Homo sapiens: one gene and its partners. The protein of the gene in region 1 purifies or fractionates together with the protein of each later gene. This does not show direct contact. Each region holds a gene or a part of one and is shown in the gene's direction. Other genes may lie near its edges. The genes, in order: KRABD3, TCEAL9, P3H2 and TBCCD1.

Region 1 (7,023 bases):
GCTGTGATTACAGACACCCACCACCATGCCTGGCTAATTTTTGTATTTTATTAGAGATGGGGTTTCACCATGTTGGCCAGGCTGGTCTTGAACTCCTGACCTCAGGTGATCCACCCACCTGGGCCTCCCAAAGTGCTGGGATTACAGGCGTGAACCATCACACCCAGCCTGGGACAGTTTTTAGAATCACTGACTTGGGTGGGTGCAGGGGCTCACGCCTGTAATCCTAGCACTTTGGGAGACCAATGTGGGAGAACCACTTGAGCCCAGGAGTTCAAGACTGGCCTGGGCAACATAGTAAGGTCCTGTCTTTTTTAATTAATTAATTAAAATAACTGCCCTGAGCAGATGAAACAAGCGGTGAATTGTCTTTGCTTTATTAGGGGCGTGTTCATTTTCTTTAATAATTTGTTCTCACAAATAAACAGTTTAACATTCATTTCTCAACAGGAAGGACCCTTCCCATAATTTACCTTCTGTTTGCTTAATTTGCACAGTTAATTTTTGCCATAATTTTAAATTCAAGCCTATTGATGCTGGTCATTTTCTAGTGTCTGATGGCCACTTTAAAGTCCACTGAAGGACTTTTTTTTTTTTTTTTTTTTTTTGAGATGGAGTCTCGCCATATTGCCCAGACTGGAGTGCAATGGCGTGATCTCGGCTCACTGCAACCTCTGCCTTCCGAGGTCAAGCAATTCTCCTGCCTCAGCCTCCTGAGTAGCTGAGATTACAGGCGCCCACCACCACACCTAATTTTTGCATTTTTAGTAGAGACAAGGTTTCACCATATTGGCCAGCCTGGTCTCGAACTCCTGATCTCAGGTGATCTGTCTGCCTTGGCCCCCCGAAGTGCTGGGATTACAGGCGTGAGCCACCACACCCAGCCGAAGGATTATTTTGTAAAGAAACATAGACAAAAATGCTCGTGTTATTTTAAAAAGCCACAGGGTAGGAGGAGATGAGTACAGAGAATAGGAGATAGGAGTACAGGGTGTAAAGGAGCCTGGTGACCCAAAGCTTCCAAGGGCAACCCCAGGTTTCTTCTGAGCACTTCTCTAAACCCAGCACACAAACTAGGTGGACAGCAAGAATGTCTTCTCTCACAGCCCTGCAGACCCGAAGCCCTACGTCACAGTGTGGGCAGGCCACACTCCCTCTGAAGGCTCTGGGCCAGGATCCTTCTTGCCTCTTGTGGCTTCTGGTGGCCCTGGGCATTCCTTGGCTTGTGGCTGCATGACTGTAGTCTCTGCCTGTCTTCACACAGCTTTCTTCTTTTGTGTCTGTCTCTGTGTCTCTTCTGATAAGGAATGAGTCATACTGGACTAAGGGTCCCCCCTACTTAGGAGTATGACCTCATCTTAAGTAATTCCATCTGCAGGGACTCTGTTTCTAAATAAGGTCCTACTTACAGGCGTGAGGGTTAGGACTTCAGCGTGTCTCTGCAGAGACACAGCTCACCCCCAGCACTGTCTCTTGAGGGGATTCCTGCATGTCAGACCCTGGCTATTATCCTGGAGTGTGCGCCTGGAGGCCTAGGTGGGGTTACCAAGTGCAGGGACAGCTAGGCTGTCCCCTCTGGGATGGAACAACCAACCCCCCCGGAGACTGTGCCTGCAGGTGTCCATCACCTTCAAGGACTTGGCCGTGCGGTTCTCGGAGGAGGAGTGGCGGCTCCTGGAGGAGGGGCAGAGGGAGTTCTACCGAGACGTGATGCGGGAGAACTACGAGACGCTGGTCTCTGTGGGTAAGGACGGGAGGGAGCAGCACGTGTGGCAGGAGCCTGGTGGGCGGTGGAAGGGAGGCCGGAGTCCCTGGACCCGGCAGCCTTAGTCTTTCCACCTGAGAAATGAACACGGGGATCGTTCACGCTGCTGCTATTCTATGTCCCGGGACCGGGTTCTAGGTACAATTCGGTGGGGGTATGCGGCGGCCTCTGAGGTTCCGACCACTCTGCGGTTCTTTGAGTTTAAGTGGTCACATGAATGTGCACAGACCTGCAGGGGCCTGGGCTGCTATGCAACTGTGTGCGAAGCGGAGACCACTCCATTCCCAGGGCCACAGTTCCCTCTTCTTTCCCAGGGACAGCTGAGCTGCTCCCCCTCTCTGCTTTCCTGTCACCCTCAGAGCCTGGAAGAGCTGTTGGGGGAGGGAGCCACGCTGATGAGGGGCAGGAGCCTGCTGGTTGTGGAGATCCCCAGGGTAAGTTATCTGTCAGACTTTGGGTGTCTCCTCCCACTCATCGGTCCTCAGCCCCAGGCAATGCGTGACCTCAGCCTACTCAGTCCAGCCTCTCACCTCCCTGCCTCCCCTACTGCAACCTCCCAAGCTTTCACCCCTCATCCCTCTGGGCTGGAAGCCTGTTATGCAGAGAAGCACTCAGAGAAAGCCTGGGGTCACCCTGGAGAGTACCTCCTGCCTCAGGCCCCCCACCCACCACCACCCTGAAGCCTTATCACAGCCACCCCTGCAGAACCTGCTCCAGCTCCCAAAAGTCCTGCCACGAGGCTTACATCCCAAGACCTCAGATGGTGGATGTGCTCCACCGGCCCAGACTGGGCAAGGCCAGGCATTTAGGGGGTGCCAGGAAAGGCAGAGGGCCCAGATGGTGGAAGAAGTGTAGCGGCAGCCCGCCTGGGCATTCCCCTGGGAGGCATGGAGATTAATGAGTAACGTAGAACAGAGGAGCCCTGTTACCCAGGCCCCGCCCCCATGCCCTGGCTGTCCCTTGGCCAGAGCGCCTGGCCTGAGCCCAGGTCCTCTATATCTCATGGGACATGGTGTCTCCTCTGGCTGCTCCTCATGTGGCTGGGAGGATTACGTGAGATGCTGGGTGTGAAAACACGCACGTAGGTGTGAGTGCTGAGCAGCCGCAGGGGTGCGGGGGGGTCACTGTGGCCTCTCTGCAGGGGGACAGCCCCGGCACAGCCTGCACCTCACAGCCCTGGTGCAGCTGGTGAAGGAGATCCCAGAGTTCTTGTTTGGAGAAGTCAAGGGCGCTATGGACAGCCCCGAGAGCGAGAGCCGGGGAGCCAGCCTGGATGGAGAGAGAGCGAGCCCCGAGGGTAAGTCAGACAGTGGGGCAGTGCACGCAGCCTCCTCTGCACTCCGCATGATGAAGCACAAGTCCACGGCACTGCACTGCATGTGGGCTTGCAGGCACAGGCCGGGAGGCAGAGTCACCTGCTGTTCCTCGTGGCTAGGCCGTGTGCCGCCCTCTGAGCACATGCCCATAGCTGGCGAGAGGGCAGCTCTGACTTTCGCATGGTGGTTTCTGTGTGGCTTTGTCACCCTCCACCCACCATGGCCCCATTCAGAGCCCAGTGATGACAACACATAGGTGGCTGACATCCTGGTCATTGTTAGTACATGGCAAGGAAAGGACCCAGAATGTGACAGTGTGACAATGTTAGGGGCATCTTACCAGTTGTTGATTCTCCCTCTTTCCCGACAGCAGCTGCGGCAAGAGAGCCCTGCCCTCTCCGAGGCCTGCTCAGCTGCCTTCCAGACGGCCCTACCAGCCAGCCCCACCTGGCCACCACGCCCACCGACAGCTCGTGTTCCAGTGGCCCAACTGGTGACGGGGTCCAGGGAAGTCCTCTCCCCATCAGTGAGTCTGACACAGCAGGGACAGGGAGAACCAGCATTTCAAAAGCCCTGATCGTGGCGTCAGAGGACCTGGACCCTGTGCCCTCTTCATTTTTTTCTAGGACTCAGTTCCCCTGTTGTGCTGTTCTTTTGTTAACAAAGTACGCCAGGGAGCAGGACAACATATTTAGCCTCTGGTGTAACCACCAAAGAGGAGGCATGATGCTCAGCCCCTGGGGAGCCTGTCATCCCGCCCCGATCACTGAGCACTTTGTACACAGAAAGTCTCCGGCAGTTTCTAACATGCAGGCCCACGGCCAGCAGCATTGACCTACCTGTGTGCACTGGTCTGATCCTTAGACCGTCTCATCACAGCAACCCTAACTGCAGAGCAGGGCAAGGGGAGCTCCTAGGATTTCTCTGGGGTCTCATTTTATTTTTAAAACTTCTCACAAATTTTGCATGTCTGTTTTTATAAAAAAGTACTTCAAATTTATATGGAATAAAATTGGCACTCCCAAAGAGCATACCCCATTTAGCTGTGGTTTCATCTGGTGTTCAGGGGTCGTCGGGCACACTTGCTCTGGGGTTCTGTGTGCCCTGTGTGTGCCCTGGTTTGAGAAGCGTGAGTGTGAGATTGTGGCCTACATGTCAAGGCTGCCGGCATCACTTCCTGAGCCAAATTCCGAGGCTGGGCTCAGGGGGAAGGGTCTGGGAGTGTTCACAGTGAACCAACAGTCTTGCTGTTTCCAGTTAAACCAGAAAGAAACGGTAAAGGCCCTCAGCCCACCTCGAACAGGGACTTGGGTGGCTGGAGAGGGCTGTCCTCTATGGGAACCAGATCTGGTGTGATTTTCCAGAGTCTGGAGCTGGGGCTAGAAAGGCCCTCTTGTCTTCTCCTGCAACAGAAACTGCCGACAAACCGTGGCCTACAAGGAAGGAAGGCCCAGGAGCCCTGGGCGGGGAGCCCAGCCCTCCCACCCATAGCCCCAGCAGGAGGAAGAGCCACAGAGGACAGGAGAGAGGGACCTCAGAGGCCGGTGAGAGGCGGGCTTTCCTTAGTGGGGTAGCGATGGGGAAGTGTGTTTAGTTCACACGAGGAGGTCATGCTGCTCCGCCGCCTGGGCCTGGTGGCAGCTCCACCGGGCAGGCCTTGTCTGCATTCTCACGGGTGGGAATCTCAGCCGCCCGGAGACCTGAATGCCTGCCAGCGCTCCCGGTGTCCCGTCAGGACTGCACTGACCCAGGCCCACCTTGCATGTGCCACAGGAATTTCTCCTGGGAACAGCCCCTTGCAAGGCCTCATCAACTGTCTGAAGGAAATCCTTGTGCCTGGGCCCCGGCACCCCGAGACATCCCCAAGCTTCTTGCCACCTCTCCCTAGCCTGGGCACGTCCAGGCTAACCAGAGCAGACCTGGGGCCTGGGAGCCCGCCCTGGGCAGGTGAGTTCTGGGGCCTCAGGCTGAGGTCTCTGAAGCTTGGTTTGCATTTCAACAGCGATTCCTCCTGCTCCAAACTGTCTCCCTTAGGGATCGTTACCAGCTTGGTCGCTGCTGTGTTGCCAGTGTCACCTTTCTGGAGCCAGGTGGCTCTCTTAAGGGCAGCGTTTGGTCAGCTGGGAAAAGGAAACTCGGAAGCAGGCTTTGCCCTGGTTTCTTCATGTCTCTTCCTCCTCCTGACTTGGGACCCGAGGGGAAGAGCTGCAGAGCTCATGTGTTGCTTTGCATTGACGCCAGGCATGATGCATGGGGTGGGCTTGGGCTCTGGACAGCATGGTGGAGGGGCCGGGGCACAGGTCTTGGAGTCAGACCCGGAGAGGCTCCTGATGCCTTGAGCCTAGGCTGTTCCCACTCACAGGGCCGCAGTGAGCTTAGCTGCAGTAATGTACTTACTGTACAACTCCATTTTCCTCAAATGTAAGTTCTGTTCAGGACCCCAGAGCTGTCTCAAACAGTGACCCTGACAGCCCACTTCCTTCAATTTGTCCTCAGAGTGATGCCACTTGTCTGCCTGCAGGGCGAATTCCATGGCTTCCCTCTTTGCCCTGTCCGGTTCTGGCAGGTGTGTGGACCCAGGCACTGGGAAGACTCAGCGAGCCACTGGAAGAGCCTCATCTTCAGAGTTGGCCCCACGCCCTTCTAACTTGTCCCCTGTTTGTTGTTTGTCATGAAGGCTGAGGACACTGAGCTCCAGGTGAAAACATGTTCCTTTTTCCTTAGTGAAGACCGAGGCGGTTTCAGGGGATTGTCCCCTCCAGGGTCTGCTACACTGTCTGAAGGAGCTCCCCGAGGCCCAGGACAGGCATCCCAGTCCCTCAGGAGTGGGGAACCGACGGCTACAGGAGAATCCAGGAGCCTGGAAAAGGGGTTCTGGAGGTAAAGGCTTCTCGCTGGGCTGGGAGGGCCCCCAGACATCCTACATTACCCTGCCCCAGGCAGGGCTGTAGGTGGCCCCCACCACAAACACTCAGGCCCCCATATTGGCCTGTCGGGAAGAGGATCCGGATGCGGGGGATCCCCACTGTGTAAGTGGAGCGAGCTGTGTGGGAGGGGCTCGGTCAGCGCTTGATAATTCTCAGGCTGGCTCTTAGAGGAGGAGCTGGACATTCTGAAAGGAAAGTGGGGAGGGAGCGAGATCAAGAAATAGAGGATGGAGCTCTAGCCCAGCACACACGCAGCTCCTCATTGTGGCTTGGGGTCCTGTGTGTTTGGGTCAGGTTTCTGCCATGTGTGTGAGAGCTGGGAACCCCAAATCCTAATTATACCCACCCAGCCCACACAGGGGTTCGTGTTCCGTGCATGTCACCTCAGCTTGTTAGCTTCTCAGAACAAAGCCCTGAGCAGCTGGGTTGAGTCAGGTGTGCTGGCCATGGAGAAAGACATGATTGGTGCTGTCTGGGGAGGGCTGACTTCATGCCTGGTAGAAACCTTGGAGGCACCCCAAGGGGCCATGGTAGGGGAGGAGGCGTGTGACTCAGGTCTCTGCTGGTGATTGACAAGTGACAGCAGTCTGAGCCGGTGACTGCCGTGGAGGCACAGGGGCTTTGGAAGCCCCTCCTAACCCTATAAAGGCCTCAAGGGATTCTCAGGGTGAGTCCAGGCCTGAACCTTGGGCTTCCCAATGGCCTCCTCCCGCAGGGCCTGGATACCTCCTGACCCCTCCTCCCCATCCTGATCTTGGAGCTGGCGGTCTGCTCTCTGTGAAGATGGAGAACAGCTGGGTCCAGAGCCCCCCAGGACCTGCATCCTGTCAGCCTGGCAGGCAGCCCCTCAGTCCCTCAGCCACTGGAGACACCAGAGGGGTCCCCCAACCCAGCTGGGGCCCTGAGGCTCAAGGTGAGGCCTGAGATTGGCTGCTCTGGTGGTCTTCCCCATGGGCTTGTCAGTCCCTGGCAAGGTTCCACTAACCCCAGGGAAGCAGCTCTCAGCAGGGAGCCG
Region 2 (7,236 bases), on another chromosome or scaffold:
CTGGAATATATACATTTCAATTTTAAAATTGTATATATATATGTGTGTGTGTGTTTTATATGTATTATTTACATAAAAATTGAATGCCCATATATACAGTGAAGAGTGAATAAAGTCTAGGTTATCTCAAAACTATGTATTTCATTGTTCTATGTATGTAATTCAAGTAAACTGTGGAAAATTTGGAAAATACACAAGAATTATAGACATGAAAGTTTTTAGAAATCTATATTCCCATAAAATTAAATGGGAGTTTAATTTTAAGTTTAAATATTTTCATTTTTTCCCCACTAACATTATAACTTATAGTAATATGCTATGAAGTAGGTAAGTTTGACTAGGTAGGATTTTACCTTATATGCTGACTTTAGAATCCATCCTTGGCTTAAGATGCAACTCCACTGCACTAACACATTCAGTGATAATTGAGAGGAAATCTACAGAAAGGACATAAGGGTTTAGACTGACAACATCTAGTGATCGCCTAATTAATATTTGTGAAACCAATAAGTGGATGAAGTGTATATTTGAGAGCCACCAAATAAATGAAATTGAGTGTATATTATTGAGGGTTTCCTTCCTCCTATATGTATTTTTAAGTATAATTAGGATAGTTTTATATACATTATTTATAACCTGCTTTTAAATAATAGTTATTTTCTTTATTTGCAAAAAATAAAACATTTTTACTGGAAAAAAGTAAGGTAACTATAGATACATGCCACATGTCAAGCAGAGCCAGATCCTTTCTGTTTCTATTCATACATATTTTTTAAAGAATTGAATTGGCAACTAAGAATACTATTTTATAATCTGCTTAAACTATTATATTATTGCCATAAGTATTACTTTCTCTAGCAAAAATATTTCCCTAGAAAATATTTTCATCAGGTCAAATTTAAGAAAGAGATGCCTCCTTCCCCATGTTAAAAATGTAGTAGTACACTTTGACCATCTCAAACTTGATTGAAGGGAGGGATAGTCAGAGGAAGGGGAAGAGACCCTCATTTCTAATGCATACTAGTTACAAACATGTAGTCCTTTGAGGAGGTCAGCGGAGCAAGGGAAGGAAATGTGAGGGATTCAACCATCGTAAGGATCTGAAGTCTCAAACAGGTAGTGGAGTCCCTTAATTCAGACCCTGTTCAGCTACAGAGAAGTATGTATATGAAATATGTGCCATAAAATAAAATCATACTATTTGCAGACATTTCCTTACTGTAGAAGTTACATATGCCCCCTGAGAAAATGTAGAAGAGTCTACAATGAAGTAAAAAAATACATATAAATCATCCATAAGCCCACCAACCACCCAATCATACCTAATTCTAATACTGTTACTGTTAATAACCTGCTTTTTCCTTACATAGCAATATACTATAAAAATTTTCATTTCAATAGATACATGGCTGTCTAATATTTGTCAGATATTTTATTTCTTCTTCATTTTTCACTTTTGTCTCAAACATTTTTCTGAATATTAGTAATTAATATATTACTTATTATTTATTTATTTATTATTATATTTTAAGTTCTAGGGTACATGTGCACAATATGCAGGTTTGTTACATAGGTATACATGTGCCATGTTGGTTTGCTGCACCCATCAATTGTCATTTACATTAGGTATTTCTCCTAATGCTATCCCTCCTCCAGGCCCCCAGCCCCCGACAGGCCCCCGTGTGTGATGTTCCCCACCCTGTGTCCAACTGTTCTCATTGTTCAATTCCCACCTATGAGTGAGAACATGCGGTGTTTGGTTTTCTGTCCTTGTGATAGTTTGCTGAGAATGATGGTTTCCAGCTTCATCCATGTCCCTGCAAAGGACATGAACTCATCCTTTTTTTATGGCTGCATAGTATTCCGTGGTGTATATGTGCCACATTTTCTAAATCCAGTCTATCATTGATGGACATTTTGGTTGGTTCCAAGTCTTTGCTATTGTGAATAGTGCCACAATAAACATACGTGTGCATATGTCTTTATAGCAGCATGATTTCTAATCCTTTGGTTATATACCCAGTAATGGAATCACTGGGTCAAATGGTATTTCTAGTTCTAGATACTTGAGGAATCGCCACACTGTCTTCCACAATAGTTGAACTAATTTACACTCCCACCAACAGTATAAAAGCATTCCTGTTTCTCCACATCCTCTCCAGCATGTTGTTTCCTGACTTTTTATTGATCACCATTCTAACTGGCGTGAGATGGTATCTCATTGTGGTTTTGATTTGCATTTCTCTGATGACCAGTGATGATGAGCATTTTTTCATGTGTCTGTTGGCTGCATAAATGTCTTCTTTTGAGAAGCGTCTGTTCATATCCTTTGCCCACTTTTTGATGGGGTGGTTTTTTTCTTGTAAATTTGTTTAAGTTCTTTGTAGATTCTGGATATTAGCCCTTTGTCAGATGGGTAGACTGCAAAAATTTTCTCCCATTCTGTAGGTTACCTGTTTACTCTGATGGAAGTTTCTTTTGCTGTGCAGAAACTCTTTAGTTTAATTAGATCCCATTTGTCTATTTTGGCTTTTGTTGCCATTGCTTTTGGTGTTTTAGTCATGAAGTCCCTGTCCATGCCTATGTCCTGAATGGTATTGCCTAGGTTTTCTTCTAGGGTTTTTATGGTTTTAGGTCTAACATTTAAGTCTTTAATCCATCTTGAATTAATTTGTGTAACTTATTAGTAATTTAAATATATAAATACAACACTTAGAAAATAAAAGTTCTCTTTATATGAAATACACATTCTCAAGTATATCCTATGATGTTCAGGATATATTCATCTGCATTTCTAATGATATAAAAATACAGTAAGACCCTGAAACAACTTGAGTTTGGATATAACATGATTGGTGATAGCAGGTGGGGAGAGAGTAAAATGGATGGATGATATTTAAGTCCAAGTGCTCAGTGAAGAATTGTTTGTGGCAACAAATCACAGCTGAGTCCTTGATGAATTTGGGTTGTGTAGCCAGCTAGCCAAATAGACTCACATCAGTCATTCCATCCATCCATCTCTCAGTAACATAACCTGGAATTTTATAGAATGAATTTCTGGACTTCACTTATCATGTTATCATGTAATTTAATTGTATACTCATATTTTAAATACACAAATATGTATACTGTTACAAAAATGTAATACCACATATAAAATTAACTTTCAATTTGCCTTTTTTTGTTTAACAATATACATTGAACAATTTTTTTCATGTGAGTAAATGTAACTCCACATCATTTTTTCATCACTGTATAATGTGGCTCTATATGAATGATCAAACTTTTCTTAAACCAATTTCCTTTTAGAAACATATAAGTTTTTGGCTCTTTAAAAAAAACACTATTGCCACAACTACTACAATGACCATATTTGGCATAGGAGTATTAATGTATGATAAATCTCTAGAAGAGGAATTGATGTGTCCAAAAGCACATATCTTCTAAAGTTTGATATTGCCAAAATGACTTCCAAAAATGTTGTACTACTTAATAGTCTCACAGTACATGTGAATATTTGTTTTACCATATGCTCATCAACTCTGAATATAATCAATATTTGTCTTTTCTAATTGTACAGATGAAAAATTAACTCTTATTTTTATTTTCAATAGATCTCAATTCTATGAGCATATGCTATTATTCCCTTCTTTCAGATGAGGAAACTCAGGTTCACAATGTGTACCTGACGATTAATTGATGATTCTTCAGGCAGCACAGCTTCCTGGTAACACCACCATGAGGACTCTGGAATGAAACATTACTCTTTTTTAAAAAATTCTGTATCATTTTCCTCACAAAACTTCTAATATCACAACAGCTTTCACTTTAAAAGCACTTACTATATGCCACATGTACAATAAGCACTGTACATGTATTAACTCATGTCATTAAAGTAATTTTTTCTTTGTCTTTTCTGACTATAAAAAGATAAAAGTTGCCCAGTGCAGTGGCTCAGGCCTGTAATTCCAGCCCTTTGGGAGGTTGAGGCAGGAGGATCACTTGAGCCCAGGAGTTCGAGACCAGCTTGGGGAACATAGACCCTGTCTCTACAAAAAAATTAAAAGACTAGCTGGACATGGTGGCACACACCTGTAGTCCCAGATACTTGGGAGTCTGAGGCAAGAGGATCACTCGTTTCGAGGAGTTTGAGGCTGCAGTGAGCTGTGATCGCACCACTGCAACCCAGCCTGGGCAACAGAGTGAGACCCTGTCTCAAAAAAAAAAAAGAGAAAGAAAGACAGAAAAAAGAAGAGAGAGAGAGAGAGAGAGAGAGATTAAAGTTACCTTTTTAAAAAGGATATAGAAGTACGAAAAATAAAAAGTAAAAATTGCATTCAGAAATCTCACTCTTGTTCCAGGGTCTTTTTTTGTTGTTGTTTCACAACTGCTGCCAAGGCCACCCTGCTCTACAACAGCTAAGAACCAGATTGCAGAGGAAATGGAGGCTAGAGGAGGGACGACTGATGGAGGAGTTATCCTGGGAGTGGAAGAATGGAAGAGACAATTCTCGAAAGAAGTAGAAAAGTTCAGTAGCTCCAGAAAAAGAGGTAGCCCCTCCCTAGTAATCAGAGTCAAGCAAATAACATTTTTCCCGCTGGGATAGGAAACAACAGAAAAGACTGACAGGGCCAAATGTATAAGTGGGGGGCGGGGAGGGAGAGAGGGTGGGCCCACTTCTGCCGCGCTTTTGGTGGGAGTGGAAATTAGGGACCCGAGCTCACTGGTGACGTAGATCTCATGTGACCAGGAGTCGACGTGTGCAGAAGTCCTGGTAATCTGGTCCTTGTTCCCGTCTGGATACCAGCTTCCTTCAGCAGCGCAGGCGGTGGTCCCTGAGGCCCGTGGAAGGAGTCAAACTTGCGGGAATTTTGCAGGTTGGTGTCACTGTAGGTGTTGACTGGGGATTTCTAGTGTGGGGGGGTTTAAGGCAGAGACTTGTGGGAGTGCCGGTCAGGTCCGTCCCTCCACCCTCCACCTCCAGGTCTACGGGAACTGATGACCCTTGGGAAAGGGACTAGGGGTCCTAGGAGAAGAACAGGGAGACCTGTGGTAGTTTAAAAATAATCATCCTCTGCTATCTAAGACTGCTTTCCGGACCCCCACCCTCCTCCCGAACCCCGCCTCAGTCTTAAAGATAGTTTGGAAATAATCTGCTTTCTCACTCTTTGTCTGATGGGAAAAACGAACTGACTTGCATGCACTGTGGAGAGGGGGTGAACTAGGGGAAACAAAAGGTGGGAAACTTTCCATATCCGAAACCCTAAAGGAGGAAAGCTACGTGTGTCAGTCTCTGGCGCTGGTCGGCCCACCAAGCGCTCGCCCCACCCCCACCGTCCCCTCCCGTTTCCAGTTTATCTGCAGGGCTGTTGTTTCCAGCAAGACCCAAAGCTAGAAAAGGAGGAGGAAGAAACTGACCCGATCAGTGCCAGGTAGGTGAGAGGAATATTATAAAGTCTCCTGGGGTGGAGACAAAGGTTGTAAGCGCCACCGTTCCTGCCGGCTCCCTTCCACCCCACCCCTTTCCCCTCTTCTTTTCTCTCCCCCTTCTCCTTTCCCCTCTTCCTCTGCCTGCCAGCCACCTTTCTCTTTTCTGGCCTGGTCCCTGTGTTAGGCCCTATGGGGGAAAAAGGTCTGGGGAGGGCTGGACGGCGGAAAGGAGGGCCTTGGAAAAGGTTAGAGGGAAGGACAAGAGAGAAGTGAGGAGGTGGAAAGTGGAGGTAAAAGGAGTGGGGATAGTGAAGCTCTGATTGCTGACTGGGCTTCTTAGGTGGAAGATATTTTATAACAGCTCTGAATAAAAAAAATTAAATGCTAAGGCCTCTGTCCACAGCACCTGTCCACTCACCAAGTCTTTAACTTACTGTCTTCTTTTTGCTTTCTAGAAGTCATTGTATTCAAAGAAGAATAAGCAAGAAAGAAAAGAAGGAAGGAAGAGAGGTAGACAGATACAAGATGAAATCCTGTCAAAAAATGGAAGGAAAACCAGAAAATGAGAGTGAACCAAAGCATGAGGAAGAGCCAAAGCCTGAGGAAAAGCCAGAAGAGGAGGAGAAGCTAGAGGAGGAGGCCAAAGCAAAAGGAACTTTTAGAGAAAGGCTGATTCAATCTCTCCAGGAGTTTAAAGAAGATATACACAACAGGCATTTAAGCAATGAAGATATGTTTAGAGAAGTGGATGAAATAGATGAGATAAGGAGAGTCAGAAACAAACTTATAGTGATGCGTTGGAAGGTTAATCGAAACCATCCTTACCCCTATTTAATGTAGTTTACCTTGATTTTTATCTGATATTAACAATACCATATAGCTTGCTTTTTATTAGCATTTCCTGATATTCCTTTGTCCATATTTCTACTTATAACCTGTTGCTATTAATGGTTTTAGATGTATCTCTTGTTATCTGCATCTCATTGTTTATTGTATTTTGAACCAATCTACAAGTCTCTGTCTTTTAATAAAAGAACTTTACACATTTGTAAAAAAGAGGTTCTTGGTAAGATATAAAATGGAAAAAGGCTAAGTAATATGTGAATATCATATTTTTGAAAGGTAAAAAGTACATTTGTATATTACATATATGGACATAACTTGTGAAGGATGAAAGAAAGTACAGCCTCTCGGTGGTGGGATTATGAATGATTTTTCTCCTTTTGCTTGTTTGTATTTTCTATATTCCTAAAATTAACACACATTATTATTGCTAGAATAATAAAAGTTTTATAAAAAAGAAGCAACAAGCAGCACGTATTAGTTTATTTCTAAAAGTATTGGGGCATTTAATATTTGTTGACAGAATTTTAGAAGAAATGTGAACTTGAAAGTAACTCCAGACCACTTAGCTAGAATAATAAATTTTACATATTTTCTCATCTTTAAAATAAAGAAAATAATCTCACAAGGATCTGGTGAGGGCCAAATAGAGTAATGACTGTGAGCTATGTTTGACAGAGTTTTGTTCCCATCCCAACTCCGTAAGAGATTAATTTCAGCGATTTGGAAGGGTGGAGAAAGTAGTTCTTATCTGTGATTAAGAACAAACCCAAGGCCGGGCGCGGTGGGTCACACCTCTAATCCCAACATTGGGAGGCCAAGGCGGGCAGATGACGAGGTCAGGAGATCAAGACCATCCTGGCTAACATGGTGAAAGCCCGTCTCTACTAAAAATACAAAAAATTAGCCGGGCATGGTGGCAGGCGCCTGTAGTCCCAGCTACTCGGGAGGCTGAGGCAGGAG
Region 3 (7,515 bases), on another chromosome or scaffold:
GAGAAAAGTTGGTTTTTAAAAACTAAGCTGATTTGGAGAAAATAAGAAGCACTTAAAAATCTCTTCTAATTCCTACTTGCTGATGGTTCCCTAAAGAAAGACGGTGCAATTATGCTGTTGACTTGTAAACAGAAGTCAAAAGGAAATTCAAGCTCTGTTAAGACTCAATCCAAATATAATAAAAAGGGCTCTGTCGCCCAGAATCTCCTTTAATGTTTTTGGATGGATTCTCTTGTGCTCTGGCTATTCTTTGATTTTGTAAAGAATAGGAAGAAAAGCAAAATTCCAGTCTCCCAGTTCATACCTATCTTAGTAGAAATGTCAACATTTTATGTTCCAATGTCGTCTTTTCTCAAATATTTTTCTTTCTTACTGTCATGTGCTTTTTTCTTTTGCTTTTTAAAAAAGAATTTACAAAACTACTATCACCCACTGCCCCATGACATCTAGCATATATGTTTTATATTTTGCTATATCAAATTAAGCATTGTACTCCTGCTACTGCCTACCTGTGGGTCTAAGTATCCTCATTTTTAAGTTAAGGGAATTAGATGAGCCTCGCAGTGCTCAAACTATGCTATATCCCTCAGGCTTGGCACCATTGACACATTAGACTGAATAATTATTTCTTGTAGGTAGCTGTCTTGTGTATTGCAGTATGGTCAACACCATCCCTGGTTCTACCCACTAGACACCAACAGTATGAATGCTCCCACCTACCATGCCCCAGATCCGACAACCAAAAATACCTCCAGATAATGTGAAATGTCCTCTGGGGAGTACAATCACTCTCAATTGAGAACCACTGCTCTAACTGAAGCTGTGAATCTTAACCTTTGGTTAGTATCTGCATCACCTGAGAAACTGGTAAAAATATAAAGGCCCAGACTAGATTCTAGTTCAAAAATCCAGGGTCTCCACGATCTTACTAGCTTTTTCACAACACAACGAAGTTTTAGAACCATTGTTCCTAAGAAATCAGATAATAAAGTATGGGCAGCACATCATCAAGGAACAAGTTAGAAATGCAAATTTGAAAGCTCCACCCCAGGTTTAGTGAATCCGGAACTCTGAGATGGAAGTCAGTTAATTATTTAAGGAAAAAGTACATTCTTGGCACACTCTGTGAGAAGTTCAGGAGTATAAGAGACTCGTGGATGACTGTCTGTTCCAACATTGAGTAAGTACCACTGGGACAGCATGACCTGGAATCAGCTTCTTGGCACTGCATGGCTCTTATTACCATAAGGTCATGAACTTTTTGTCCTGATCCAGCCTTAAAAAGCAGATCAGATTGGCTTTCCTGGGAGGGAATATCTGGGGGATTACACAAAACCCTACCTATTCTCCAAACCCTACCTACTCATGAATTCTACACAGCACCTGGAACCCCAACTCATAGACTTATTCTTTGGGCTGTGGCATTAGCTGTAGACCTGTGGTTCTCAACCTTGGCTTCGTATTATAATCACCTGGGAAACTTCTAAAAATCCCATCGCTCAGGTCATATCCCAGACCAATAAATCAGAATCTTTCAGAGCAGAAGCCAGACACTTCTTAGGTGATTCTAATGTTCAAGCAAATTTGAGTTGTCAATGAATAGTTTCTCTCAAGTCAGGCAGAGATTGTACGTAAGGTAGTAATACAAGGCATATTACTTACTTACTACTTGTAGTAAGATATAAGAAATAAGGTAGTAGGACATACAAGAGGCTTGAAAGAACCTGGCCAATTTGGCAATCAGTAGGATGTGGTTGCATTCTATAGGCTATTGACTGTGTGCTAATGCCAATTATTTCCCTAAGTCTTTTTAGATCCTTCTAGCCAGAAGCTATCTTTGTAACCTCTGTGTTCCCAGAGCTCTTTTTTCTTTCTTCTTCTTTTTTTTTTTTCTTTTTGTTTTTTGAGACTGAGTCTCACTCTGTGGCTCAGGCTGGAGTACAATGGCGCGATCTTGGCTGACTGCAACCTCTGCATCCCGGGTTCAAGTGATTCTCCTGCCTCAGCCTCCTGAGTAGCTGGGATTAAATGTGCCTGCCACCACGCCCAGTTGATTTTTGTATTTTCAGTAGAGACGGAATTTCACCATGTTGGCCAAGCTGGTCTCCAACTCCTGAGCTCAGGTGATCCACCTGCCTCGGCCTCCCAAAGTGCTGGGATCACAAGTGTGAGCCACTGCGCCCGGCCAACACTTTCAATCTAATCTAACACGTACCACATTCTACCTTGTATTATAGCTGTATACATTATATATATCAAATTTGTTTCCTATACAGTACTGTGAGCTTCCCAAAGGTAAGAATCCTGACTTATCTTCTCTTTCACCTAGAATATTTACTTTAAGAGTAGGCATCAAAAATTGTTAATTTAATTGAAATATATTAAATGATGTAGAAATGTCACCAAATGTACAAATAGAATGTAGCAAGGTATCCTGGCACTTTGCCCTCAGTCCCACAGCAGGAGTTCCTATCCTGATGTGCTTCAAAACCTTCCACAAGTGGACTGATAACCCTGGACTAGACTCCAAAATCTTTATCTGAAAACAGACAATCTCTAGAGAAAAAGTCTGGGCAGATGACTGATGTGCTAATTCTGGAACACTGACCATCCAAGGCATTCAATATACATTCAGCTCCAAACTGGAGCTTTTTCATCAGTGATATGAGCCGAATTAGTAACGTTTGGTGGGAAAAAAAAAGAGCATGATTCATCAGTGTCTCTTGGAATTACACAGCCAGGGCTGTTCATGGCCTGAGTGGTCAAACCTAACAAAATGAATGAAGGAATCAGCATGAATCTCTGGCAAGCCCCTCAGCGTAGTGGTGATTCCACATAAAAGCCTTCTTCGGAAAAATCATAGCAACTAGATACATGCGTGAGTCTTTTTCCCATTGCCTGTCCCTCTGCTCACCATTGCAGGGGCTGAAAGACTGATGAGATTCTCACAGGCACTAGAAGACCACAGAAATGCCTCCAGGAGGCAGGCTGGGATCCAGGGTCCAACCAATATTCTTGTGAGAGTGTGAAGCCAAGGAACACGAAAGAGGGGAACACCTTGGCTAAGAATGTATTCGTGACAGAGGAGAAGGGGAGGAACAGGAAGCCTCCAGCTAGTCGTTTGGAATCTGGCAACCATTTCTGTCAGCTTTCTCATTCCTAGATTGATGCAGATTGCTTAATTCCTTGAGGTAAGGGATATACTAAATTGCCTCTTTGTTCAACTCTTAGAATAAGAATTTCCCTCTCCTCTCCCGTCCCCTCCCCTCCCCTCCTCTCCTCTCTTTTCTTTTTCTTTGTTTTTTTTGTTTTTGAGACGGAGTCTCACTCTGTCACCCAGGCTGCATGATCTCAGCTCACTGCAACCTTCACCTCCCAGGTTCAAGCAATTATCCTGCCTCAGCCTCCTGAGTAGCTGGGTCTGCAGGCACGTGCCACCACGCCCAGCTAATTTTTGTATTTTTAGTAGAGACGGGGTTTTGCCATGGTGGCCAGGCTGGTCTCGAACTCCTGACCTCAGGTGATCCACCCGCCTTGGCCTCCCAAAGTGCTGGGATTACAGGGGTGAGCCACTGCACCTGGCCCACAGCAAGAATTTTTTTCTGAATAGCATTTTACGTGTTAGGCGTCTGGCTGTTTAGGAGATGAGGAAACTGAGGCCCTCAGTTGCCAAGGTCACACAGCTGGTAAACGGACGGAGCCAGAATGCGAGTACAGCTCCTCCTGCCTCCAAAGGTTCTCTGGGCCCTGTAAAACCACGGGCTGCACAGGAAAGGCAGGCTATATATTGTTCTTCCCCTGGCCCAGCGCCCTGATCCAATGCCCGGACACACATCCACACCAAGTTGGACGAAAAGGTAAGGGAGAAACCTTCCCCAAGAGAAGAAGCGGTAAGCTTTGGTTCTAAAGGCCCTGGGTTGGGTCCGTCCTTTGCCACTTCTCAGCTCTATGCATTTAGGCAAATCACTTATCTTCTTAAACCTCCGCATCTGGGCCTACAGGGCCTCTATGGGTTTTTTTTCTATTTATTTATTTATTTATTCTTTTTTTTTTTAACTTTACGTTCCGGGATACACGTGCAGAATGCGCAGATTTGTTGCGTAGGTACACATGGCATCTACGGTTTGATTCAGTCTGAAATGGCGCTCCAGGCTTCATTTAGAAGGTGAAGCACTCTGCAAACTGCGAGGCCATACAGAGATTCCAGAATATGATTAAGGCCCTAACCTTGCTAAGCTGGATTTTCTTTATTTCCCAAAAAGAAGACTAATACTATCCACTTGTACAACCAGAAGGGAGCTCACGTGTAAAGCGCCTCGTCCCCGGCCGGCCTCAAGCGGCGCTAGCTCTCTGGCTGGCGCTGGAGTGTGCCGCCCCTGGCAGCCCCGCCGCTGCAGCGGGGAGCCTGGGAGAGCGGCTCTCGGAGTCTCAGGCAGCAGGAGGAGCGTGTGAGCTGTGGGCGTCCCTTTAAGAGCGGCTGGCCAGGCACGGCCTCCGCCTCTCAGTACGCGGAGCGCCGGCGGTCACCTGGGGCTCGCGGAGCGGCCAGATCGCGGCGGAGTCGGCGCGCTTCCCCGAGGGAAGGTGGGAGAGGGGACCCGGACGCGAGGTGCCCCGAAGCCCTCTCGAGCGTAACCGTCCCGCGCCTCTCTGAGGCGGAGGATGCGGGAGCGCATCTGGGCGCCGCCGCTGCTGCTGCTGCTGCCGCTGCTACTGCCGCCGCCACTGTGGGGCGGCCCCCCGGACAGCCCACGCCGGGAGCTGGAGCTGGAGCCCGGGCCTCTGCAGCCCTTCGACCTGCTCTACGCCAGCGGCGCGGCCGCCTACTACAGCGGAGACTACGAGCGAGCGGTGCGCGACTTGGAAGCGGCGCTGCGCAGCCACCGGCGCCTGCGGGAAATCCGCACGCGCTGTGCCCGCCACTGCGCGGCGCGCCACCCGCTCCCGCCCCCGCCCCCCGGCGAGGGCCCCGGCGCTGAGCTGCCCCTTTTCCGCTCCTTGTTGGGGCGGGCGCGCTGTTATCGCAGCTGTGAGACCCAGCGCCTCGGGGGCCCCGCATCCCGCCACCGCGTCAGCGAGGATGTGCGCAGCGACTTCCAGCGCAGAGTGCCCTACAACTACCTGCAGCGGGCCTACATCAAGGTACCCACAGAGCGCTCCTCCACTGCAAAGCCCCTGCGGCTCTCACACGCTCTCTTGAGCCCTCCCTGCTGCCCCCGTCATCTCTGTTCAGTCTTTCGAATTGGGTCTCCTTAAATATGTGTCTCAGTTTGTGAATCCAGATATCTGGTGGCCCTATCTCTGTATGCAACAATTGATTAACTTGGACAAGTCTTTTTCTCTCTTTCTCAGAGCCAGCTTCTCTCTCAAAAAGAGGACTGTCCTGATAAGGTGATGTTTAAAGTACCCATTCAGCACTAATTCATGAGGCATTGACAAAGCTGAATCTAGTACAATTTATCTTCTCCCTTCTCACTTCCCATTTCTCTTCTCCCTTCTCACTTCCCATTTCTCTTCTCCCTTCTCACTTCCCATTTCTTTTGTCTCCTCTCTCTTATCCTTCCTATACTGTAGTCTGCACCTTTTCTCTGAAGTTTAAAAGAATCTTCAAAATAGTGAAGTTGAAAGACCTGTTCCAAAACAAATTTCTCTCTCTTCTCCCCTTCACCTACAAAAAAGTAAAGATCAAAGGTTAAAGAGAAGGTATGCTTGGAGGAGGCGAAGCTGTTTGAGGCAGTCTCAGTCAAAGTATCCACCCTAAGTGTTGACTTTTTCTCCTTTGATAGAGGGCTTACGTTTTCTGGTGGTATGCATTGGACTGGGTTACTAGGCATCAGTCCTCTCTTTCTAGTTTTATTTTTGTATGCCTAACTTGCCTAAAGTTAGCGTCAGGAGGTATAGTATGCATATTGACATATTGTTCACATCCATAACTTTGAAGATCTCTCTGGATGCTTCAGCAGAGGGAATTTGAATGAGTTCTTCAACCTCCACTGCCACTCACCCAATTTTCCTTCAAATTGACACTCTTAACCCTTCTTTCTCGTTTTCTGTGTTAATATATCAATGTATCTTCTACAGCTACCGGAAAAGTGGAAGCTTTGGGGTTGGTTGTTCATGCTAGCCAATGGACCAGGCTGCTCTGCTCTGCTCTGCTCTGCTGTGCTCTGCTTTGCTTTCTTTTCTCCTCTCCTCTCCCCTCCTCTCCTCTCCTCTCCTCTCCCCTCCCCTCCCCTCCCCTCCCCTCCCCTCCCCTCTCCTCTCCTCTCTTCCTTTTCTTTTCTTTTTTTGACGGAGTTTTGCTCTTGTCACCCAGGCTGGAGTGCAGTGGTGCAATCTGGGCTCACTGCAACCTCCGCCTCCCGGGCTCAAACGATTCTCCTGCCTCAGCCTCCTGAGTAGCTGGGATTACAGGTGTGCACCACCATGCCGGGCTAATTTTTGTGTGTGTTTGTGTATTTTTAGTAGCGAAGGGGTTTCACCATGTTGGCCAGGCTGGTCTCGAACTCCTGACCTCAGGTGACCCGTCCGTCTCCGCCTCCAAAAGTGCTGGGATTATAGGCGTGAGCACGGCTGGACCAGGCTGTGTTTCTAAGGAGATGAAAGTACATACCATGTTCAAATATCCAAATGCCTTTTGCAGCTCATCCCACAAGATCTCTGCCCTCATCTGTGGTAGGGTTCTCTCAGATTGGCAACTGTTGGTGGAGTGCACGAAATTTCAACTAAGTATAAATCTTAACTTCCTTGTGTTGTGGCTAAGGTGTTGGAGTTCACTGGACTAGTATCTTGGGCAAGAAATGAGGAGAAAGTCTGAATCCTTTCCAGGACTTGTCTTCTGCTTGCTTGTGCCTCCTGATTGCTAAGGCATGTATGAAGTATAACTCTAATTTCTTCTAAGTGATTTACACAATTTCTGGTGGTCTTACAGAAATCAGTCAACACCAGGCAGAGAGGGGACCTTGAGTGTCTGACGGTGAAGTTATCATAAGCTAGTTCCCAGAGCAGAACATGGGTGGTCCCTGTAGCTTGGTCCTCCCAGGAGTCTCGGATGTAAGGTTAGCAGTCCTGCTGTTAATTCTGTCACAAATTTTGGACATATTTTCCTTTCTCATATCTGGAGAAAGAATACATAGTCAAGGTCAGTCCTATAAAAACAAATAACCATGAGGTAACTCTCAATATGTGGGTTTCCCTGGTTCTGGAATTCTGCTTGCTTCACTGTTAATGTCAGCATTTGTCAGTCATTTCCCCTCCGGTTCCCTGGTTGGAGGTCAAAGAAGGTGAAGCCATAGGTTTAACATACCTCAAATTTTTGTGGTGAATTGATTACAGGAACAAGTCACACTCTGTAAGTGAATTACTGGGTGTTGTCTGATGAATTAATGAAGTTTAAGAAGTTCTTTCAAAGATCCGTGGCTTCGTGTGTTCATTTCAGTTCTACCAGCAATATTTCTGAGAGCAGAACAAGTCTTGCGTCTTCTCCCTACTTCTCTTCTCTGGCAGTTTCTTGGA
Region 4 (7,023 bases), on another chromosome or scaffold:
CATTTAGTCATACGATTTTAGGCAAGTCAGTTAACTTCTCTAGGCCTTGGCTTCCCTTCTGTAAGTGAGGATAATAATGCATGTTTCTGAATGACTATGAGACTTCAGTAATATATTAGCATGGGACTTATTGCATAGTAAGCACCAATAAATGGTGACTTTGGTTTATACTACAGCACGACCTCTCTGAGTAACTGATTGGACCGGGGTGGACACTTGAGTAGCCCATTTATTGCTATACATTTGAAATTGGCCAGATTTAAAGTGACGACCTGGGCCAGTCAGTTCCCCCAGGAAGAAATTATGCATTGGTGATAGGTGTTTGAACTAAAAACGCATTTGACATTGGGACTGGAATAGCCATCATGCTTGTTAATGAACTGGAATTCTAAGGGATTAGAAATTCTGAGGCCAAGCCGGGCGGATCACCTTTATAAGGTTTATATAACTACCTAATTCCTTTTGGGGGATGAGGCAGAGTATAAATACAAAATAATTAAAATATAGAAATTTTAGATCTTGTGGAATCTCTTTATTAAGAGTGCTTTCTTTTAACTTTTTTTTAGAACTGGAATGATTACAGTCACCAAGCTTTTGTCTATGATCATCTGTCTGATCTCCTCGAGCTGCTTTTAGATCCAAAACAACTCACTGCATCATTTCATTCAACCCATAGTAGTCTAGTGTCTCGAGAAGCTGTTGTGGCGCTCAGCTTCCTTATTGAAGGTACAATAAGTAGAGCCAGGAAGATCTATCCACTTCATGAACTTGCACTGTGGCAACCACTGCATGCAGATAGTGGCTTCTCAAAGATCTCTAAGACTTTCTCTTTCTACAAACTGGAAACCTGGTTGAGGTCCTGTTTGACTGGGAATCCATTTGGTACATCAGCTTGCCTCAAGTCTGGAAAGAAATTGGCTTGGGCTCATCAAGGTATTTTTTAATATTTTAATCTACATTAAATTGAATGACAACTTAAGGAACCTAGTGTTTTCTAATATATTAGTGATCTCGTGTCTTCTCTAGAAGACCTAAAAAATACTGCTCCTATAAAAGAGAAAAAGGAACATCTGTCTTTTGTGCATGACTTTTTCTCTCAAGGATTATACTAAAATATTAAAAATGATAGTAGGATTACAAATTATTTTTATCTTCTTTTACTGTTATTTTTCTAAATAACCATATATTATGTACCTGGTACATGTGTAATAAAAGTAAACGTATGTAATAAAAATAAACAAGAAATGTTTTAAAAGAAGAAGAATAATAGCATACTCATGTGACCTCCCAGTATTTCAGCGGTGTTGTTTACAAGGGTGTCCCGGTGGCTTGCAGGGAGGTACAGTCTGAGAAGGCAGTCACGTAACGGTGTGACTGTGTTAGGAGAACCTGCGCGTATTTTTTGAGTGTCAGTTTGTGCAACACACTGTGTGGGATAGGAAGATGTGCTCTCAGGTAGTAATGATCTTAGGAGTAAAGACATGAACTCAGGCTGGGTGCGGTGGCTCACACCTGTAATCCCAGCAATTTGGGAGGCTGAGGTTGGCGGAAGGTGAGGAGTTCGAGACCAGCCTGGCCAACATGGAGAAACCTCAGCTCTACTAAAAATACAAAAATTAGCCAGGCGTGGTGGCATGCACTGGTAATCTCAGCTCCTCAGGACGCTGAGGCAGGAGAATCTCTTGAACCTGGGAGGTGGAGGTTACAGTGAACTGAGATTGCACCACTGCACTCCAGCCTGAGTGACAGAGTGAGACTCCGTCTCACAAAAAAGAAGAAAAAAAGGCATGAACTCAAATAGGATTAATGGGATAATGTGGTAAGTTAGGAAGGGTACAGAATTAATATTATGGTAATTTAGAGAGGTGAATTACGTTTGGGATGATAAAGTAAAGCATCTTGGAGGAGAAGATATTTGAGTTAGGACAGCTTTGCCACTTACTAGCCATATGACCTTAGGCATAGACCTTAACTTGAAGCGTAGACACGAAAAAGTATCTTAGACTTATAGGCAATCTTAAATTCATTATAGGTTTTAAAATTTTTTTTATAACAAAAATGAAAATTCCAAACATACAGAAAGGAATAGAGAATAGTATAGCAAATACCTCTATCCAAAGCCCAGATCTAACGTTTTTGTCCCTACATGTGGTATCTAATTTGAGACATATATACATGTAGACGTGTAACCTCATATGTTTGTTTGTTTTTCTTTGATTTGATACTGCCTCATCTATTTATATGTTTTCTTAAATAGTTGAAGGGACCACCAAAAGAGCTAAGATTGCTTGTAATACTCATGTGGCCCCTAGGATGCACCGACTGGTAGTGATGAGCCAGGTTTACAAGCAGACACTGGCTAAGAGCTCAGACACTCTGGCGGGGGCACATGTAAAGATTCATCGTTGCAACGAATCTTTTATATATCTGCTCTCTCCCTTACGGTAAGCACAGTTTTCATGGTGTTCTGATGTTCTGACATTTTCTTTGGACTGTGACTGATTCTTTTTTTGCCATCAGATAATAATATTTTAGTCAAATTTTTAAAATCTTATTCAGAGGACTTTACCTCATTTTTTCCTTTTTTCAGATCTGTGACAATTGAGAAGTGCAGGAATAGCATCTTTGTCTTGGGCCCTGTAGGGACTACACTTCACCTCCACAGTTGTGACAATGTTAAAGTCATTGCTGTTTGCCATCGTTTGTCCATCTCTTCTACAACAGGTTGCATCTTTCACGTTCTTACGCCTACACGCCCACTTATTCTCTCTGGGAACCAGACAGTAACTTTTGCCCCTTTTCATACACATTACCCAATGCTAGAGGACCATATGGCCAGGACTGGCCTTGCTACAGTGCCTAACTATTGGGATAATCCAATGGTTGTGTGCAGAGAGAACAGCGACACAAGAGTCTTCCAGCTTTTACCACCTTGTGAATTCTATGTATTTATTATTCCCTTTGAAATGGAAGGGGACACAACAGAGATACCCGGGGGTCTTCCATCTGTATATCAGAAAGCACTGGGTCAAAGAGAACAGAAGATACAGATCTGGCAGAAAACTGTGAAGGAGGCTCATTTGACAAAGTGAGTATTTTTTACAAGTAACAGTTTGTGTTTTTTGTGAAACTCCATGGAGAAACAAATTAGTCTGCACATTTTTACAGCTGTGCTAAAGTAATAAAAAATGTAAGGCTGGGCGCGGTGGCTCACGCCTATAATCCCAGCACTTTGGGAGGCCGAGGTGGGTGGATCACCTGAGGTCAGGAGTTTGAGACCAGCCTAGCCAACATGGTGAAACCCCGTCTCTACTAAAAATACAAAAATTAGCTGGGTGTGGTGGCGTGTGCCTGTAATTCCATCTACGTGGGAGGCTGAGGCAGGAGAATTGCTTGAACCCAGGAGGCGGAGGTTGCAGTGAGCCAAGATCGTGCCATTGCACTCCGGCCTGGGCAACAAGAGTGAAACTGTGTCTCAAAAAAAAAAAAAGTAATGTGTTTTTAAATTAAGGTTTGGATTTCAAATTAGTATTTCAAACACTGTTAGGTTGGGGATGGGAGTGGGTAAATATCCAGTATTAGACTCCCTTTTCTTAAGAAGCTAAAGTTTAGTTGGCAAATATAAGACTTACATGAATTTAAAAAATCATACATAGAGTATGCCACATAATCCAATACCATTCTAGGCACCTTCTATGTGCTAACTCATTTATTCTTTGTAATAACACCTTATTACAGGTGAGGAAACCGAAGAACTGAGGAATTAAGTACTTTACCCAAAGTCACACAGGAGCCAGGATTCACACCTAATCAACCTGGTTCCAGAGGTTCTTTTTTTTTCTCTGTTCTGACTTCTCAGTAACCAGAGGTTCTTAAATGCCTCTAATGTCTTCATTGTTTTCTTTCAAATATTGTCATACCATATCATACTGTACAATAATAACATTATAATAATGTGTTGTAAAAATGGATGATCATGAAAAAACATTCTTTTAAAGCAGTTCTGTTGTTTGAATGGTTCTAGTATTTAAATGGTTAGATTCTCTACACTTGATCTCAGCCAAAAGGCCAAGAAACGATGAAGTGCTTAGATTCTCTTACATGTGAAAAGCTCCTGCATATACATGTGCAGACTGTGGGATGTAAGCACTTAATAAATGCTGACTCTGAGTCAGTGTTTTCAAGTGGTGAGATCCACAGTGATCCCAGAAACAATGAAAGTAGTCAGTTTAACTTTGGGAATATAGGAAGACAGAAATCAGTTTGAAACAAATTGCCAGTGTGACCCTTTTAACAGTGATTACATCATGTCATTTCCCTGCTCTGACCCCTCTAATGGCCTCCCATCATACTTCAAATAAAATCCAAAGCCTTTACCATACTTACCAGGCTCTCTCTTCCTCAATTTCTGCCGTTCTTTTCCTCATTTCCTCCTTCCCGGCATACAGCAGTCATCTTACTATTACTTAATCACTGCCCTCTGACCAAAGACCACCAGGAACACATCTATAGAACAAAGGTGGATTGTGTTGACTCATGGCAAGGAGGGAGAGAAGTGTGTTTCATCTCAGTAAAAGGTTGGGGAACATGGAAAACTGTGTTTCAACTCAGTAAACAGGTGTTAAAAGGAACTTATCGTTGGATTTTGGCTTGTGTTAATGATTTGGGGGAGAGTTCTAGGAAGCAGGACTATCTGGAAGTGAGAGTAATGTGTGATTTGACAGTTTAATAACTTTTATATCTAAGGCAGGAGGAAGGAAGGAAGAGCTAAAACTATAATTGTAAAGAAGTAGCCACTCCTCCAGGAAAGGAATGTTTAGTGATTTTATGGTTTGGGTCACAACATTTTTTTGGAGGTTGGTGTGGGGGTTTCTGAACTGAGATACGATTACGGAGTGATCTTGTTCTTTCTTTGGTCTATCATCATCCCAGAGTGGCTTTGTCTAATGGTGGTGGTTTAAGGTATTGTTTATGTTCAACAAAAGAATACAATAGCAAGTCCAGATCCTACACCAAGGCCTAGCTGACAGTGCTAGGCTAGCTCCTGGCTGTCAGGAGCTACTCTTCTCTTTCTTATCATGAACATGTGAAATACGCTCTCACTTTGGAACCTTTGTACTTTTTTGGTCTCTTCTGCCTGGTATATTCCTCTCCAAATACTCATTCTGCTTATTCCATCATTTCATTTAGACCTAAGCTCAAATATTATCTTAGGGAGGCCATCTCTCTCCATTCTTTCTCTGAAATAACATTTCCAGAATTGCTATTCCTTCACCCTGCTCTATTTTTCTCCATGGCACCTAGAACTACTTAACTTTATATTATATTTTTATTGTATTGTATTGTATTGTACTGTATTTATTTTGAGACAGCATCTCGCTTTGTTGCCCAGGCTGGAGTGCAGTGGTGTGATCTTAGCTTACTGCAGCCTCCACCTCCTGGGTTCAAGCGATTTTCCTGCCTCAGCCTCCCGAGTAGCTGGGACTTAACAAACATGTGCTACCATGCCTGGCTAATTTTTATATTTTTTGTAGAGACAGGGTTTCACCATGTTAGCCAGGCTGGTCTTGAACTCCTGGCCTCAAGCGATCCACCCGCGTTGGCCTCCCAAAGTGCTGGGATTACAGGCGTTAGTCACCATGCCCGGCCTATTTATTTTATTTTTACCTATCTTTCCTACTAGAATATATAGTCTTCAGGAGCATGGATTACACAGATCACAATGTGAATGGTGCCCTCTGGAGTCGTGAAGTGTCATCCTGCTTCAACAGGGGCCTTGTCTCTTCTCTATACATTTATCCCCATCAGTCAGAACAGTACCCAGTGTTCACTTGGTCCTTGGTAAATATCTGACAATGAAAAAGTAGAAAGAGGACATTGTATCTGATCAATCCTTTGTGGGGTGGGGGTGTCCAGTGTACTCTGAACAGTGAGAACAAAAGGATAACAAGAAATAATTAATCATTTAACATTATCCTATTAAAATATTGTATAATTGCTTAGAGTACAATTTATATGAATTCATGTTCTTATATTCTTTTTACTCATAATCGCAATTTTAGGGATCAAAGGAAGCAGTTCCAGGTACTGGTAGAGAACAAGTTTTATGAATGGTTGATTAATACAGGACATCGCCAACAGCTGGACAGCCTTGTACCCCCTGCAGCAGGCTCCAAACAAGCAGCTGGATAAGGATCTTACATGCAGACACTGGTAGGCATTTATACCACTTAAAACAGATTCTTTTGGGGAAATCTTTCAAGCATAAAAAAAAGGCACAGAATATTATATACTAAACATGCCCAAATTTTTTCTACCGCTCCTACCAGCATACACGGACCTTTATGTACCCATATTTACCATATTTTATAGTGAGAAAACCAACCAAAATATTCAGATGGAGCCTATAGAATTTGGGGCCAATATAATGGCCAAATTTTGTCTTATTTTGCTTTTTGCCTGGGACAAGTTGTACTGTCCAAAGATACCACATTCCCCCATACATAGTTCTAAGTTTTATTCTCCTTTTCTAAACCTTTCCTCTTATCCATTCCCCTCACAAAAACCAATTTACAAATTAGCTGATCTTTGCTAATTACACATATTAGCAGTAATAAATTACCAGAATTAATCCAAATGAAGATTTGATTACTGAACACTAGAAGATCATGGATTAAATAGAAGAGAATATGCATACAAACAAATTTACTGGAAGTAAATTTAATCCAGACATATGGTATTCTTTTTTTTTTTTTTGAGACTGAGTCTCTGTCTCTCGCCCAGGCTGGAGTGCAGTGGCGCCATCTCAGCTCACTGCAGCTTCCGCCTCCTGGGTTCAAGTGATTCTCGCACCTCAGTCTCCGGAGTAGCTGGGAAAACAGGCATGCACCACCACAGCTGGCTAATTTTTGTATTTGTAGTAGAGGCTGGGTTTCACCATGTTGGCCAGGCTGGTCTCAAAACTCCTGACCTCAGGTGATCCACTTGCCTTGGCTTCCCAAAGTGATGGGAGTACAGGCATAA

Evidence for each region.
Region 2: the proteins of KRABD3 (region 1) and TCEAL9 purify together in Homo sapiens (affinity purification with mass spectrometry; 2 studies listed by BioGRID and IntAct, with this or other methods). This does not show direct contact.
Region 3: the proteins of KRABD3 (region 1) and P3H2 purify together in Homo sapiens (co-immunoprecipitation; 3 studies listed by BioGRID and IntAct, with this or other methods). This does not show direct contact.
Region 4: the proteins of KRABD3 (region 1) and TBCCD1 purify together in Homo sapiens (affinity purification with mass spectrometry; 2 studies listed by BioGRID and IntAct, with this or other methods). This does not show direct contact.

The regions. Positions count from the first base shown.
Region 1 is NC_000007.14:149,717,929-149,724,951, forward strand, and holds part of KRABD3 (protein KRBA1), read left to right. Parts: intron 1-1,540; exon of another isoform or gene 1,541-1,617; coding exon 1,618-1,744; intron 1,745-2,079; coding exon 2,080-2,199; intron 2,200-2,906; coding exon 2,907-3,062; intron 3,063-3,451; coding exon of another isoform or gene 3,452-3,454; coding exon 3,455-3,607; coding exon of another isoform or gene 3,608-3,915; exon of another isoform or gene 3,916-4,112; intron 4,113-4,445; coding exon of another isoform or gene 4,446-4,493; coding exon 4,494-4,625; intron 4,626-4,854; coding exon 4,855-5,028; intron 5,029-5,805; coding exon 5,806-5,961; intron 5,962-6,723; coding exon 6,724-6,921; intron 6,922-7,023.
Region 2 is NC_000023.11:103,351,730-103,358,965, forward strand, and holds TCEAL9 (transcription elongation factor A protein-like 9), read left to right. Parts: upstream 1-4,776; 5' UTR 4,777-4,877; intron 4,878-5,353; 5' UTR 5,354-5,432; intron 5,433-5,885; 5' UTR 5,886-5,955; coding exon 5,956-6,270; 3' UTR 6,271-6,733; downstream 6,734-7,236. UniProt on the Homo sapiens protein: May be involved in transcriptional regulation.
Region 3 is NC_000003.12:190,117,879-190,125,393, reverse strand, and holds the start of P3H2 (prolyl 3-hydroxylase 2 isoform a precursor), read left to right. Parts: upstream 1-4,496; 5' UTR 4,497-4,662; coding exon 4,663-5,142; intron 5,143-7,515. UniProt on the Homo sapiens protein: Prolyl 3-hydroxylase that catalyzes the post-translational formation of 3-hydroxyproline on collagens. Contributes to proline 3-hydroxylation of collagen COL4A1 and COL1A1 in tendons, the eye sclera and in the eye lens capsule.
Region 4 is NC_000003.12:186,550,319-186,557,341, reverse strand, and holds part of TBCCD1 (TBCC domain-containing protein 1), read left to right. Parts: intron 1-566; coding exon 567-933; intron 934-2,257; coding exon 2,258-2,444; intron 2,445-2,590; coding exon 2,591-3,088; intron 3,089-6,062; coding exon 6,063-6,192; 3' UTR 6,193-6,213; intron 6,214-7,023. UniProt on the Homo sapiens protein: Plays a role in the regulation of centrosome and Golgi apparatus positioning, with consequences on cell shape and cell migration.